Linked DNA regions of Homo sapiens: regions 2 and 3 are each linked to region 1. The links come from fine-mapping of genetic effects on gene expression. A gene starts in region 1. Each other region holds a variant in brackets. All regions are shown on one strand. Distances are between the middles of the regions. Region 1 holds the start of ITIH5 (inter-alpha-trypsin inhibitor heavy chain 5). Region 2 overlaps ITIH5 (inter-alpha-trypsin inhibitor heavy chain 5). Region 3 overlaps ITIH5 (inter-alpha-trypsin inhibitor heavy chain 5).

What was found. PIP is the estimated chance that this variant, and not a neighbour inherited with it, causes the effect. A credible set is the group of variants that fine-mapping cannot tell apart.
Region 2: its variant is the best candidate, but not a certain one, in a credible set for the expression of ITIH5 in lung (TOPMed, PIP 0.58).
Region 3: its variant is the best candidate, but not a certain one, in a credible set for the expression of ITIH5 in tibial nerve (GTEx, PIP 0.57).

Annotation. Positions count from the first base shown.
Region 1 is chr10:7,664,599-7,669,598 of GRCh38, forward strand. It overlaps ITIH5 (inter-alpha-trypsin inhibitor heavy chain 5), which reads right to left and starts at 2,368. Exons shown (of 14, transcript NM_030569.7): 1 at 2,205-2,368. The coding sequence starts at 2,294.
Region 2 is chr10:7,568,474-7,575,433 of GRCh38, forward strand. ITIH5 (inter-alpha-trypsin inhibitor heavy chain 5) reads right to left here. Exons shown (of 14, transcript NM_030569.7): 11 at 4,669-4,722; 12 at 1,195-1,311. Among named protein-coding and RNA genes, the nearest start is that of ITIH5, 95 kb to the right of the region's middle. The variant G/A (reference allele first, on the strand shown) is at 4,956.
Region 3 is chr10:7,578,479-7,583,478 of GRCh38, forward strand. ITIH5 (inter-alpha-trypsin inhibitor heavy chain 5) reads right to left here. Exons shown (of 14, transcript NM_030569.7): 9 at 1,277-1,586. Among named protein-coding and RNA genes, the nearest start is that of ITIH5, 86 kb to the right of the region's middle. The variant C/A (reference allele first, on the strand shown) is at 2,085.

The sequences.
Region 1 (5,000 bases):
AGTACCCACTGTCTACAGATGGGGTGAAGGGTGAGAGGTGAAGGAACTTGAATCTAAGGTGTTACTGGTATATTTCCAATTACAGGTGAATGACAAATAACTGCAATGCAAGTTAATAGTCATATTCAGCTATATTAAAATTTGCATAAGATTTGCATAGACTTACATTTTTCAAATTAAGTTTACATACAATTTTAAAGACCATAATGATTGAGAATAGAGTGCTCATTACATTCCCAGGTTCTGTTCTAAGATTTAAGTATATTAATTGTTTCACTTTTCAAAATCCTAAGTAATTGCATCATCCCCATACAGAGATAGAGGCTCACAAACGTTAAGTAACTCCTCAGTAAGTGCAGAGCCAAGATTTGAACCCAGAATTCTGGTGCTAAAGCCTATGCTCTCAAACCCTATATCACAAAAACTAAATATAAAAAAGAACGGATTAGGGATAAAAGGTAAAATTGCAAGTTCATAGAACTTTATACCTTGGATTTTTTTTCCTGATTTAGTCATTTTCAAGATAAATAAATATTGTGCTGGGTTGAAGACAGCATGAAATCACTAAAAGAGGTCAAGCCATGTTTTTTTATGACAGCAAGTCCATAGACTGTGAAGCCTACTTGAACTTGGTATATGCTAGAGTTTAAACAGCCTTCCTAGTTCAGACACAGAATCTTTGTTTCAGTCCATCCCACACTGTCCTGTCTCCACACCCCCAAAAAAGTTTCAAGATCTTTACCCTAAATTCCTTCACTCAGCATGTCAGCAGCATGAGTCTAAGACCATGGCCAGCATTAAGTGCTGACAGTGTTTTAAGCACTTGGGTGTCATAATGCATTCAGTCCTCACAACCCTATCATTTCTCCACATTTCACAGAAGAGGAATATAAGGCCGAAAGGCACTTGATCAGGGTCCCAGAGCTGATAAGTGACAGAATCAAGAATCAAGTGGTCCCAGACATCCTGGTACCAAGCCCATGCCTTCAGCCATCTACTAAAACATCTCCCAGTTATTGAGCGTCCACTGTATACCAGGTGCTTAACACAAATTAGCTGAGTCCTTGCAAGTTTGCTCAAAAAGAGCCGCATTCCCTGCCCTGACCAACGAGGACATGAAGGCTCTGAGAGATTAAAGGGCTTGCCCGGAACACACAACTAAAGCCCAGCCTGTCTCTGCATCCAAAGCCTGCACTTTTCCAACATCACTACGATGCCTCCTGGGATTTTATTAGCTACTCCCCCCCTAGAAGGAAGTATCATTACTACCACTTTACTGTTAAGCACATTCACAGGACAGAGAACATGAAGATAACTGTCTTCATATTTAGGCAGTTGGGCTTCAAAACTGCTCTTCAAAACAGGGGCTGGAAAAGGGAGAAAAGGTCCGCCTACTTGTATCTTCCTCCCACCGTGCACAAACACGCTGGAAGCTAAACGGCTTAAATATTTAAATGGCATGTGTGTGAAAGCACTTCTACTTTGTGACAGGGCCATGTTGCACATTAGCTCTCAATGCTATTTGTGTGAACCCGCTTCATACTTTTTAAAGACAAAAATGCTCTATTCATCATTTTATTGACATTTCATATTTGCAGGTTTTATTCGCCTGCGAGGTTAAGACATTTGAAACACAAATCCTGACAAACGCACAGACCAGCAACTCGAGGAACTCAGACGCTTTGGCTCTCGGTGCCACCTTTAAATGCTAAACCACCGGTAGGTAGTCGCTAAATGGGAAAGTCGTGTTCTCCCGGTTTTCAGGTGGGAAAAGCTGAGGCTCCCAGGAGTCTAGAACTCCTCTCATATTGCCTTTCTCCCTGGATCAACTGGGAATGATGATAACAGCAGACTGCCCCCCACGCGTGATAAGGAAAAAACCTTGTAATTATAATAACTTTTGGAGCTACCTCAGAAATTAACAACGACGAACAGAAATCTGCGCAATCAACAGGAGCCAAGAAGAAAAACTCGGCTCCGCAGGACAAGTCCCGGGCACAGTTCTGCAGGAAGCCTCAGGCCAGATCAGGCACCGCGGCTCACACAGAGGTGACGCACGAGTGACCCACAGAGAGGGACCCCTGGGCCTCTGGTGGGGGCCTGGGAGACGGTCGAAGGGGGCCCGGGCAGAAGCTCCGCGGCCGGGCCGGCGGAGGGAAGGGGGCGGCCGCGCCCGGGACCCGGCTCCCCTCGGCTCCACTTACCTGCTCCGAAGAGTGGCCCCAGCTCTGCGCCTCTTCCTGCGACCCCACACACAGGGACAGCCCCAGGCACAGCCCCAGCAGCAGGAGCATGGCGGGGCGAGGGCGCGGGACGCTCGGGGACCCGGCGGGACACGCTTTGCAGCGCCCAGGGCTCCAGCCACTGCGGGACGCTCTCGGGGCCGCCCACCCCGCGGTCCCAGCCCGGACCCCGCCCACCCCACGGACCCAGCCCGGACCCCGCCCACCCCGCGGTCCCAGCCCGGACCCCGCCCACCCCACGGACCCAGCCCGGACCCCGCCCACCCCACGGACCCAGCCCGGACCCCGCCCACCCTGCGGTCCCCTCCTGGACTCCGCCCACCCCACGGACCCAGCCCGGACCCCGCCCACCCCACGGACCCAGCCCGGACCCCGCCCACCCCGCGTCCCAGCCCGGACCCCGCCCACCCCACGGACCCAGCCCGGACCCCGCCCACCCTGCGTCCCCTCCTGGACTCCGCCTACCCCGGTCCCAGCCCGGACCCCTTCCACCCCGCGGTCCCCTTCTGGACTCCAACTCTCCCACCCCAGCCCAGACCCCACTTCCCCGCCCCAGACCTTCCCACACCCTGCCTCCCTGGACACCCCCCAAGCCCGGCCTCGCCTCCCTGTCCCCAGTCAGGACCCAGCTTCCCCAGGTCCCCAACCCCAAGCTCCGTTTCTCCACGCCCCCATTTCCCCCCACCTCCCCAGTCCCGGCCCCACCTCTCCTGTCCCTGTCCCCACCGAGGCCAACTTCCCAGACCCCACCTACAGCCACCCCCTTAAACCCGGCCCGCCTCCCTGTGGCCCCCACACCAGCCCCGCCTCCTCCCCAGTCCCCACCCCGCCCGGCGCCGCTTCCCGGCCTCAGTCCCACCAGAGCCGCGCCTCCAGCCCCCAGTGCTGGGCTAGCTCTGTTCGGGGAGAAGGCATTCCAAGCCTGCCTCGCCGCGCACAGCAGGGGCCACCTGTGTTGGCCCCACGGACCCCTCCCACACCCTCCCATCCTGCGGCTGTGACACTTAACCAAGGACCAGTCTCCTCTGTAGAGCCTCCTACTCCGTTTCTTGCCAACACCCACTGCCTCCCGGGCCCTACCCCACGCGCCCCCGCAACTCTTTCTTCCTCTCCCTCAAGGTGCAATATGCTTCTTTGCGGACTTGCTTAATTTCTGTCGCCAGAGGACGCGAGAAGGCCAGCCTGGTCCTCAGCACACAGCCCACCCCGCACCTGCCAGCCTGAAGCCGGCAGATCGTCCCCTCTGCATTGGCCAGGGACGCTTAATAGGCAGGACAAAGGATACTACCTGCAGTCTAGCGCAGGAGGGACTAGCAAGGCTGCCAGCCTTTATGTTCTAAGGAAACAGAGGAGACGAGGGAAGTATCTTGGTAGCGTGTAGTATTTCTGAGTTTCTGGTTATTAATCATGTAAGTGAGTGCCAGTATGTATCTTAGTTACAAACTATTGGTGATACTTCCATCCTGCCATTGGAAGAATTCTTACCCACCAGCCGTCCACACCTGGCCTTCTACAGGCTGAGTGCGTCTTTTTTATCTGGTGATACACATTGCAGTTGGGGCTACTTGTTTATTTCATGTTGCAAAGGATGTTTTTTATGTCTCTGTGATAATTTCATCTAAATAGGTGAGGTGAGTGACAGACCCTTTAAGGACCAAGAACAGGGAAGGGGCTAACTTCGGACCATGGAATAGAGAATACTATTCCATGCAGGTTACTATGGGGCCATTAAATAATCGTGCGACGTCTCCAGAAACATGGAGAATGTTGACAGTGTAATCTAAAGAGAAAATCACATCACCAAATCGTATCAACAGTATGATTGCAATTAGGTAGAAATACATATGGAGGGACATAACTAGAAAAAAAAAACATGAAAAATAAAAGCAGTGGGTAGGTTAGTTTGTGGTGAGATCCTCGAAAATATCTATTCTTGTTGAAATGCTCTTTGTTTAATGAATTAGGAGAGGTTAAAAACAAACACCTTGCTACTGTGAAATAAATGAAAGGAAAATTATTGTCATCAGCAGTTAATCCTTTAATAGCCTAACCACTAGTCAGCATGCAACCAATAAGAAACAACTGTAGCCGGTTATTTTTCCCTCCAGAGGAAAGTAACTATTTGTGAACCAGAAGTTGAATTGGACAAAGCCAGTTTATTTGCAATAGGGAACCATACAGCGGCCATTATTTCAACCCATGATTGCAACAGAACAGAGACTCCATCGTCTTTCCTTCCCTGCCATCCCTAACTTGAAATGCTGAAAGGGCCCATATTAAACTATTTTTGCCTTTATATCTGATCTCTTTTTTTTTCCCAAATTCATACTAACTGGGTTTTACAGCAGTCTAATGTTAAGAAAAGTGAGTTTTATTTTCATCTGGGAGGACCCTCTGATTCTACCCTAGACTGTGGTTCTAATGTGTTGTTTGTTTAATATAAAGCCAGTTTCTCCAACTGGATCTGTTCTTTGAGGACAAGCCTCTCCCCCAACTTCTAGAACTGTGCTAAATATATTGTTAGCACTTAAGGACCTTTTGATGAATGAGATTAGTAGATGGGAGGAATGAGTGTGGATGGTAGAGCCAGGCTGTGCCAGGGAGGTGGGGCTGGGCTATAGTGCAAACTTGACCGCTACCTAGCTGTATGACTTGACAGAGTTTCTGAACTTCCTATTATTTTCAAGCTGTAATAGTTCAGTATTCTATGTGACACCTGTGTATCTCTATGATGATCTTTAAAATCTAGGTAGGTGT
Region 2 (6,960 bases), 95 kb before region 1:
GGACATATACAGTTAGGCCCCTATCTTGCTCCTGAGCCCTTTGAAATAAGAAACAGTAGAGATTTGGCTCTGAGGCTATAAAGTCCCACAAGAAAACATGTGTTGAAGGAACCCCAGGATCAAACTCTACATAATTGCATCACACATATCACCTGCTGGGGGACCCTGTGCAACCCAACATTCCAAGACACGTTCTCAGCAGTGAGGAAGTGCCGGGGTGCCCACTCCAAAGCTTGTCCTCACAGAGCTGGACATGGTTTGTTACCTGCATCGAACTTGAAAAGCTTTCTCTGTGCTAATCTCTTTCACCCAAGCCCTCTACAGACCAACAGGGGCCACAGAGCCCCTTTGTCCATACATGTTCACGGCACACAGACAGAACTGTGGATTAACATGTGACATCCCATGTAAGTCATCAAGAAACTGACATGAGTTTAGAACCTTGGCCTCCCCGGCATCACAGCTTTTGAATGGATAGACACTATGACAATAATACACAATAATATATTGTGGTTTTCTTTTCTTTTTTTCTTTTTCTTTTTTTTTTTTTTTTTTTTTTTGAGATAGAGTCTTGCTCTTTTCACCCAGGCTGGAGTGCAGTGGCATGATCTCAGCTCACTGCAACCTCTGCCTCCCAGGTTCAAGCGATTCTCCTGCCTCAGCCTCCCGAGTAGCTGGGATTTCAGGTGCCCACCACTATGCCGGGCTAATTTTTTTGTAACTTTAGTAGAGATGGGGTTTCACCATGTTGGCCAAGCTGGTCTTGAACTCCTGACCTCCGGTGATCCACCTGCCTCGGCCTCCCAAAGTGCTGGGATTACAGGCATGAGCCACCGCGCCCAGCCTACATAGCGGATTTCTAAAGCACTTCAGCATTTAAAAAACAACTTCATAACCAGTTTCATTTGATCCATTTTATATTAGCTCTGTGAGGCCAAGAGAGTGTTCCTATCTCCATTTTACAAGGGAAACAACTCCCAAGGCATGTGCCCAAGGTCACACGGCACTTGTCATAAAGCAGGGAGTCGGATGCATAAGTCCAGGAGCGCAGTGCGCTTCCCTTAACCACTGACGATACTCACTGAGCGTCTGTAAGGTGGCCCTTGGATCACTGGACATCCATCTGAAGAACAGAGGGGGATGCAGTACCTACCTGGTCCTTGCCCAGATGCTGCAGCGGAAGGTAGAACTTACCAGAGTCCCTGTGATCAGAGACCAGCCTGAGGATGTCCCCGGGCTGCCCATCAATGTTGAAGCACACGGTGAGTCTGCTCAGGGGGAAATCCACAACAAAGTGGGGATCACCATCCACTGCCAGAGCAGAAGAAAACGGAGAGAAAAAGAAAGACACTTATTCAGTACCTTCCTTGTGTAGGTGCTACTCTCTATTTTCTCATGAATTATTTTATTGAATCCTGAAAACTATTCTGGAAGGAGGTGTCCTCAATTTCCAGATGAGGAAGATGAGTGGGAGGGAAACAACTCCCCAGAATTACCCAGTGAGTTTGCAGTAAACATTTGACTTCAGGTCTTCTAAATTCCAATATAATGCTCCTTTCAACACACCTCAGCTCAGTCTAGACAACTAAGCTTTGAGAGGTGAGAGGAGAAGGAAAGAGAGATCCCCACACACCTTCAACTGGTACTCAGCCCCCATGCTTCCATTTCCCAGGGGGACATCCCTTGCTATTTGCTTTCTCCTTTAATGGCACAGATGCAGAGGACTTTCCTCCCTATGATGGGAGATCTATGGTGCTTCTTCTCCCAGGAAGCCATGGGCTACCCCAGGCTCATTCGCAGCGTCAGCTGTACGCCACCCCTGCACGCAGGCACTGAGAGCCATGCCCAGCTTAGATGCAGAGGCAAGGGAAGCAAAATGCGAGTAGGCGGCCAGGCGCACAGTCAGGGTGCTGGCGGAAACCCCTCCTTTGGGTCACTCCGACTTCACTGCTCTGAAATTTCTGTCCACAGATGAGACCGCAAAGTTCAGCTGACAGTTCTTATCTGTTCTCCTCATTTTCACCTCTGTTAAAGGTGAACAGCCTTGCCTTTTATTATACAGACAGAAGATTTCTTGAGAATCTATATCAATTCTCTTACCAGATTGGAGATTTACCTTCTCTCTAATTTATATTCCAAGTGCAATTTGTTTATTTTATTTATTTTTGAGACAGGGTCCCACTCTGTTGACCAGGCTGGAGTACAGTGGTGCAATCAGAGCTCACTGCAGCCTCAAACTCCTGGGCTCAAACGGTCCTCCCACCTCAGCCTCCTGAGTAGCTGGGACTACAGGCACGTGCCACCATGCCAGGCTAATTTTTTATTTTTTGTAGGGACAGGGTCTCACTATGTTGCCCAGGCTGGTCTCAAACTCCTGGGCTCAAGCATTCCACCCACCTCAGCCTCCCAAAGTGCTGGGATTTCAGGCGTGAGCCACCACACCGGCCTACAACTTGTTTCTCAAATGCCCCTCTGCCTTCTGTGCACATGGACATGTCTGCATGCACGCTGTGCACGGTGTAGGCAGGGGCCAGGCAGAGTCCACTCTTTTTAAGCTGCAGCAAACTAACATCCCTGCATTGACTGCTGAGAAACCCTTTCTGCCCCAGCATCCCTGACACGGGCCCTTGAGAGGATCTGGCTGCTCTCCCTGGGAAGTGCCTCAACTTCCCTGAAAATTGCAACATATGAAGAAATTCAAGGTGCTGGTCTTTTGCTGATGGGGAAAAACTGACCCCCAGAGGAGATCAAAGTTCTCATCCACATTGCTGGCATTTTTCAGGCATGCACGCAGTTGTCTCTTGGTGTCCATGGGGGATTAGTTCCAGGACCCCCGCGGATACTAAAATCCACGCGTCCTCAAGTCCATGACATACAATAGTGTAGTATCTGTATACAACCTTCGCACAGCCTTCCATACACTTTATTTTTAATTTATTCTTATTTATTTATTTTGTTTTTGAGACGGAGGTTCACTCTGTCACCCAGGCTGGAGTGCAATGGTGCAATCTCGGTTCACTGCAATCTCTGCCTCCTGGGTTCAAGCGATTCTCCTGCCTCAGCCTCCCGAATAGCTGGGATTACAGGCGTGCACCACCATGCCCAGCTAATTATTGTATTTTTAGTAGAGATGGGGTTTCACCACGTTGGCCAGGCTGGTCTCGAACTCCTGACCTCAGGTGATCCACCTGCCTCGGCCTCTCAAAGTGCTGGGATTACAGACATTAGCCACTGCACGCAGCCTTTCTATACACTTTAAATCATCTCTAGTTTACTTATAATAATGAATGCAAAGGAGATGCGATGTAAATAGTTGTTACACTACATTGTTTAAGGAACAAAGACAAGAAAAAAAGTCCGTACACATTCAATACAGATGCAATTCCTTTTTCACGTATTTTTGATCTGTTGTTGGTTCGATCCTTGGGATGCGGGACCCATGGAGATAGAGGACAACTGTCTAGCTCATCTGACAGTTTTCTGAGAGTTTCTATGTGCACATACCACACCATTTCTACTCAAATTGTCCAAATTTCTTTACAAGGAAAGATAGTGCTTGCTCCAAAAAAGAGGGGAGGGTCAAAAAGTCATTACTCCAGGCAGCATCCAAGAGGAAGCTTTTCTGGCATTCCATAAAGCCTGTGTGTGTGTGTTGGAAGGAATTACATTCTGTCTCCCGCAGGCTGTGCGGACTCTATATCCACAGCTCATCTCCGGGATGTCCCTGGCTTTAGGAACTTGCACGTACAGCACAGCAGCAGAAAGGCAACAATCAAGACTTCCAGAGGATGATCTGGACACAGCAGAACAAAACCCAGTCATAGGTTGTTCTTTCCTCTGAATTTTTATTATAGTTCCAGGATGCTGGCAAAAGGAAATTTCATGACATTTGAAAAAATCTGTTCTTCCCTTCTGAAGCCACGAACTGAAAAAAATGAAAACAAAAACAAAGCCTGCCTGTCACACCAGACATTTTTATTTTGGTAGCACCATTTTATGTTTATGATAGCAGAGGCTGGAAGGATGCATGCTCCGGATCTCTAAAACAAATGTCTTCTAAACTCAATGAGGGTCAGAATGTGCCTCTGCCACCCATCTATTGGGTGGTGCAATATAGCTCACTGCAGCCTCATCGGGTTTCCTGCCAGGCTTCCTGGGGACTGTGCTATCTCCATGGTGTTTATGGGATGGTTTCATAACAGCTGCACTTCTCAGGCTCTGCCTCACACTGTGGGCTTGATACATTGCTGAATGAGCTGGTATTTTTAACTGGCTTCAAGGAATTCTTGGTTTTACACTTTTTTTTTTTTTTTTTTTTTTTGAGACAGAGTTTCACTCTTGTAGTCCAGGCTAGAGTGTGGTGGCACAATCTCGGCTCACTGTAACCTCAACTTCCCAGGTTCAAGTGATTCTCCTGCCTCAGCCTCCCCAGTAGCTGGAACTACAGGCCCCTGCCACCATGCCTGGCTAATTTTTGTATTTTTAGTAGAGACGAGGTTTCACCATGTTGGCCAGGCTGGTCTTGAACTCCTGACCTCAAGCAATACACCCACCTCGGCCTCCCAAAGTGCTGGGATTACAGGCGTGAGCCAGTACACCTGGCCTGGTTTTACACTTTTTAAACATCTCTTACTCTCAATCCACACACAACCGCATCCTTTGCTTTACCTGATGTTTTAGAGATTTTAATTCTTGGCTGGTATGGCTTCTTGAGCAAAGGTCCTAAAAGGGAGAAGGAAGAGAACATCATGGTCATTCCTTAAAGAAGATGAAGAGAGAGGTGCAAAGGGAGAGAGGAGACATGAGCAAAACACAGCTTTTAGGTACGTTTGTAACAGCTTAAATAATCAAAAGACCTTTAAAACATCATCAGTCTTAAAAAGGGAGCTTGGCCTCAAAACACACAAGCAGAGCCAGGCATGGTGGCTCATGTCCATAATCCCAGTGCTTCCGGA[G/A]GCCAAGGTGGGAGGATCACTGGAGCCCAGGAGTTCGAGACCGGCCTGGGCAATATAGTGAGACCCTGTCTCTACAAAAAAAAAATAAATAAATAAAATTAACCCAACAAGGTGGCACACATCTGTAGTCCCAGCTACTTGGGAGGCTGAGGTGGGAGGATCACTTGAGCCCAGGAGATCAAGGCTGCAGTGAGCTGTGACTGCACCACTGCACTCCAGCCTGGTTAACAGAGTGAGACTGTCTCAAAAAAAAAAAAAAAAAGGAAAAAAAAGAATAGAATAGAAACTACACAAGTGGAATGTAAAGTGTGTAGGATTAATTATTTAATTATTGTATGATTTAGATACTATTCTTTTCTGTGATTTTTGTGTATATTATAGGGGAAAATATTTTATCACACTTGAGATGTATTTATAGGGGAAGGGAGAAATGAGCTGTTGTTCAGTGGGCCTGTAGCATTTCAGACGTGCAAGATGGAAAAGTTCTAGAGATCTGTTTCACAACAGTGTGAATATACCTAACATCGCTTACCAGCATTGAACTGTACGCTTAAAAATGGGTAAGGTGGTAAATTTTATGTTCACAACAAAAACAAAAACAAACAATAATGTAATAAAAGAGGTACAGTTATAATCCAGTGTCTGTAGCTATGTGTGCGGCGGAATTTACAAAGCAGAAGATTTTGAAACACTTTGTATTTCAAAGTACTGGTGCTTTGAATAAATATTCAATGAAAGAATAACCTAAAAGTAATTAATATCTATAAATAAAATCAATATCTTACGTCAAATTGTTAGTACTAGGTAAAATTGTGCTCCTCTTCTCTGGTTTTTATTGCTCACAGAAATTAAAGAGTGAGATATCTAAAGGTTCTTGAAGTACTCCCTTCTCAATACTGGTCTTGACCAGCGTGATCTGGGCAGAATGTAGATTAGCCAGGAAAGAGGATGGATGACTGGATGACTGATTTGAGGAGTGGCAGCTGCCACCAACTCTCAAAAAAATTAAAATTTAAATTTAAAAACCATCAGAGCTTTAAGGAAAGGAAGAATCTTCATTTAAAAAACAAAAAACAAAAAACCGGCCGGGCGCAGTGGCTCATGCCTGTAATCCCAGCATTTTGGGAGGCCCAGGTGGGCGGATCACAAGGTCAGGAGATTGAGACCATCCTGGCTAACACGGTGAAACCCCATCTCTACTAAAAATACAAAAAATTAGCCGGGCGCGGTGGTGGGCACCCGTAGTCCCAGCTACTTGGGAGGCTGAGGCAGGAGAATAGCGTGAACCTGGGAGGCAGAGCTTGCAGTGAGCCGAGATAGCACCACTGCACTCCAGCTTGGGCGAAAGAGCGAGACTCCATCTCGGAAAAAAAAAAAAAAAAAAAGCAAAAAAAAACCCTTTCGAGTAGTCAGTTGGTTATCTCCTCCTCTGTCTTTCTGGCCCCCCGAGTCTTGTATGGTCCAGATCCGATCTCTCCTGAAGCTGTGGAGATTTGCGCTGATGACCTAGCATCAAGATCTTATTCAGAAAGCCACTTTTCCTGGATGTGGCATGGATCTCATAGGTAGAAAGTGATAGCATCCTGCCACATGCTTTTAATCACAACAAAAATTGTGTACGTTTTGCCAAGACAAGCTCCACGCTTTCTGAAATAGCCATGTCAATTGCAACCTCGCTATCAGGGTCCGAACTTTTCAATACATTTCTGGTATTCCGTGCCTCCACGGAAGGCGTGTCTGACATTTGTGCAAAACTCACTGTGTGCCCACGGCATTCCATATTTAGTTCTTACAACAGCCCTGCAGGGAAATTATGATTATCTCCGTGTTCAGGGCTGGGGAGTGGGAATGGAAGCTCAGAGAGGTTGAGAAACCTGCCTCAGGCCTCACAGCTGGTCAGGAGGGTTGGTGAATCCTAACTGCATGCTTTCTCCACACCCAGGTCCTTCTAAGACTTTAGAGTGTGAGGAATAAATGGGACAGCATTGGTGGGGTGCAGAGTAGG
Region 3 (5,000 bases), 86 kb before region 1:
GTATCAGATTCTCCCCTTTGACTCTAGTTTTGAATAATTTTTAAAATGTGGAAAGCAAATCTGTGTTTTCATTTAAATCTTTCATTAAAATGCGTGGGAGGAAACGGTGGCGAATCCCAAACCGAGGACCTGTCTTTACTGCACACCTTAGGTGTCTCCATTTCCATTTATCATTAATAAATGTGCTTTGACTATGGCTATTAAACACCTATAAATCTACCCAAACCTCCCCTTTGCTTTTAAGTAGATACCACATATGCCACGATGCAGATTAAAGCACCTCACGCTGAACTGGGAGCTGGCACTTCACTCAATGAACAGCAAAGGAGCAGACTGATGCGTGGCAACATAATATCGGAGGGAAGCTATTTCTGTTTTAAAAGATCTGAGTTTTCTCCATCTCTCATTTAAAAGATCTCATTTATTCTCCACCTCAAAATAATCTGATTATTTAACAGTTTTATCTGATGGTTTTGCTTCCAAATAAAAGTATCTTTTAACTAGTACTCAAAATGAACATAACAGTACTCTGCTACTTGCTCACAGGGTAGAATAAAAGTAAACTTACTAGAAAGTGCTTTGAAATATCAGGATGTCAATGAACTATGAGAGCTCATTAAATACTTAATATGGGATGGCCACTGTGCCAGTGCTATACATAGTGTTTTTATATAGCGATTTTCTCATTAAATTCTGCAACCAACCATAATCCTCATTTTACAGATGAGAAAACGGAGGTACAGACTGTCTTAAAATCTTGCTTAGGGCCGGGTGTGGTGGCTCACGCCCATAATCCCAGTACTTTGGGAGGCCAAGGCGGGCAGATCACCTGAGGTCAGGAGTTCGAGACCAGCCTGACCAACATGGAGAAACCTTGTCTCTACTAAAAATACAAAATTAGCCAGGCGTGGTGGTGTGTGACTGTAGTCCCAGCTACTCAGGAGGCTGAGGCAAGAGAATTGCTTGAACCCAGGAAGCAGAGGTTGCAGTGAGCTGAGATCACGCCATTGCATTGCAGCCTGGGCAACAAGAGCGAAACTCCATCACAAGAAAAAAAAAAAAAATCTTGCCTAAAGTCATAAAGGAGGATCAGAATTCGAACTCTGATCTGCCTAGTTTCAAAACACATGGTGACACCTCCCATTGCAATGAGCTATGATCGTTGTCAGCAGATGCAAGGCTGGGGTGCAGCAACACACTCCTCTCTGAATTCCCACCGCAGCCACCCCTCAGCCCCTCAAACAGCCTCTCATGCCTACGAAGACAGACCACAGACCCGATGAGCTGCGAGCCTGCGTCCTCCTCCTCGTGCACGCGCCGTGTGAGGCCACAGTTCTCCAGCGACAGTTTCTCCAGCAGCCTGAAGTCCACGTCGTTGCCGATGCCAATGGTGAAGATGCAGACTTGGCCTCGGGCGGCCTCTCGGGTGTTGTTGAGGATCTTGAGGGTGTGCGTCTCCCCGACCGTGGGCTTCCCATCCGTCAGGAAGACGATGAGGGACACGCTCCGGTCTCCAATGCCACTGTGGGCCACGTACTTGTTGAGGAGCCTGATGGCCCTCTGCAGGGCCCCGTTGATGTCTGTGCCTGCAGGACACCAACACGGAACAGCTCAAGCCTCTGCACTCACCTCCGCACTCTGATTGCACTTTCTTTTTTTTGAGACGGAGTCTTGCTCTGTCACCCAGGCTGGAGTGCAATGGCGCAATCTGCACTCACTGCAACCTCCGCCTCCCAGGTTCAAGCGATTCTCCCGCCTCAGCCTCCCGAGTAGCTGGGATTACAGGTGCACACCACCACATCTGGCTAATTTTTGTATTTTTAGTAGAGATGGGATTGACCATGTTGGCCAGGCTGGTCTCAAACTCCTGACCTCAAGTAATCCGCCCACCTTGGCCTCCCAAAGTGCTGGAATCACAGGCATGAGCCACCATGCCCAGCCTGAATGCACTTTCATAGCTGCAGTTCACGCTCAACCACCCAAATGCTCACAGGAGTGAGGTGTTAAGGGGCCATCCAGAAACTTGCTAAAAGCAAGTGCATTTACTAAATGCATATAAGTGAATGGGGATTATCCCACTGTAA[C/A]AAACCTTCTCCAGAAGGCATGTGGCGACGCCTTAGCTTACCTGAGCTTCAATGGCTTCTGTGCCCTCTTCTGAGAATGGCTTTGAAAAGAGCAGGAAGGTGTTGAGCATAGAAGACAGCAGGAATGTGGAGGGAGAAAGAGCCGCAGAGGGGAGGAGGGGCATGGAACGAAGAGGAGGAGGGTAGCTGCTGACATCTCAGATGCCTTCCAGTGTTGTCTAGGGCTAGGTGGAGCTGATGAAAGAATGAATTTGTTGCCTTCATCGTCTCTCCTTTCTTTGCTTCCTGTCCCTTCAGATCACCTCTGCTTGCCAGAACCCCACAGAGAAAGGAGCCATGAAATATTTCTCCTCCTGGCCACCCTTTTTCCTTCAGAGGCCCTTGTCAGCAACAGCTCTGATTAAAGTTGGAGGCCAGCCAGGCACGGTGGCTCATGCCTGTAATCCCAGCACTCTGGGAGGCCAAGGTGGGTGGATCACCTGAGGTCAGGAGTTCGAGACCAGCCTCGCTAACATGGCAAAACCCTGTCTCTACCAAAAATACAAAAATTAGCCGGGCATGGTGGTACATGCCTGTAATCCCAGCTACTCGGATGGCTAAGGTCAGAAAATCACTTGAACCCAGAAGACGGAAGTTGCAGTGAGCCAAGATCGTGCCATTGCACTCCAGCCTGGGAAACAGAGTGAGACGCGGTCTCAACAGAAAAAATAAAAATAAAATAAATAAATGAATAAATAAAATAAAGTTGGGGGCGAAAGGGAAGAAAAATTTTATCAGGAATATGTGGCTTAGAAAAACCATACGAAACAGAAAACAAATCTCAACTCTGAGAAATGATGGAACAATAAACACCAATGACATTAGCAGGCATCTGTGGACAGCAGGAGGTTTTTCTCTCCTTTTTTTCTTTTGATGATTTTCTTTATTCCTCAAATGTTTTAGAATAGATACTTCCATGGAAAAAATGGTGTGAGAACATGAGCAGGCTTCTGGAGTTCTAAATGTTCTGTTTCTTGATCTGGGTCCAGGTTCTGTTCAGTTTATGAAAACATATCAAGTTGTACACTTACTACATGTACATTTTTCTGCATGTATGTTACACTACAGGTTACTGCTTCCTTTAAAAAGAATGTTCCCATGTTTTCTTTTCTTTTCCTTCTTTTTTTTTTTTTTTTTTTTTTTAGAGACAGGGTCTCACTATGTTGCCCAGGCTGGTCTCGAACTCCTGGGCTCAAGCAGTTCTCCCACCTCAACCTCCCAAAGTGCTGGGACTACAGGCATGAGCCACCATGCCCGGCCACCCATGTATTTTTTTTTTTTTTTTTTTTTTTGAGATATAGTCATGCTCTTTCGCCCAAGGTGGAATGCAGTGGCGTGATCTTGGCTCACTGCAACCTCTGCCTCCTGTGTTCAAGCAATTCTCCTGCCTCAGCCTCCCGAGTAGCTGGGATTACAGGCACACGCCACCATGCCTGGCTAATTTTTGTACTTTTTTAGTAGAGACGGGTTTCACCATGTTGGCCAGGCTGGTCTTGATTTCCTGACCTTGTGATCTGCCCGCCTCGGCCTCCAAAGTGCTGGGATTACTGGCAGGGGCCACAGCACCTGGCCCCATGTATTCTTAAATTTACTACTTTATGATTAAAATAAATCAGACAATTTAAGTTTGGGAGCAAAATAAATAAATAAAGTTGGGGCCTGTGTCTTTGATAGGAGCTGAACAAGTATTTGTTTGGTGGATGGGGAGACAGGTGGTTGGGTGGTTGAGGTTGAAACCCCAGCTACAGTGAGGTTTCTGGGTTAGCTAAGAATTCCACTGGACTAAGCTACCAACATCCCACCATTACCAAGTAAAGCAGAGACCTTACTGTAGTGTGAACACCTATTTCCTTTGTTTTTTTTTTAAAATGGCTTAAGATAAAATCTACATACCAAAAGATCACCCATTCTAAGTGTCCAATTCATGATTTGTAGTAAATTTAGAGTTTGATGACCATCACCACCATCCATCATCCTGACTGGAGTGACTTTTCTCTACCTGCAAATTTTACCACATTTGTGGTACATATATACCATGGGGCACTATTCAGCCACAAAAAAGAATGAGATCTTGTCATCTGCAACAAGATGGATGGAACTGGAGCTCATTATATTCAGTGAATTAAGCCAGGCACAGAAAGACCATCTTCCCATGTTCTCGCTTATTTGTGGCAGCTAAAAATTAAAACGATTGAACTTATGGAGATAAAGAGTAGAAGGATGGTTTCCAGAGGCTGGGCAGGGTAGTGGGGGGTGGGGCAGAAGTAGGGATAGTTAATGGGTACAAAAAGAAGTTAGAAAGAATGAAGACGATCTAGTACTTGGTAGTGCAACAGGGTGATTATATTCAATAATAATTTCATGATACACTTAAAAATAACTGAGTATAATTGGATTGTTTGTAACAAAGGACAAATGCTTGAGGTGATGGATATCTCATTTATCTGATGTAATTATCACACAATGTATGCCTGTATCAAAATACCTCATATACCCCATAAACACATATACCTACTCTGGACCCACAAAAATTAAAAATTAAAATTAAAATGTACCGCATCTGAGAGAACCAGATCATCTCCCCCACGGCTTAACATCCTCCAGATTTTCTAGCTAAAAAAGTAGATAAGGCTATGTCCATGACCAAATGTTCATAATTCTTGCTAAGATGCAGAGCCCAAATGGAAAGAAAGTTATTTTACATTTTATTGGAATCACTAATTTGCCTTTCTTTTGTTTGTTTGTTTTTGAAACAGAATTTCACTCTGTCACCGGGGCTGGAGTGCAGTGGTGCGATCTCGGCTCACTACAACCTCCGCCTCCCAGGTTCATGCAATTCTCCTGCCTCAGCCTCCCCAGTAGCTGGGACTACAGGCG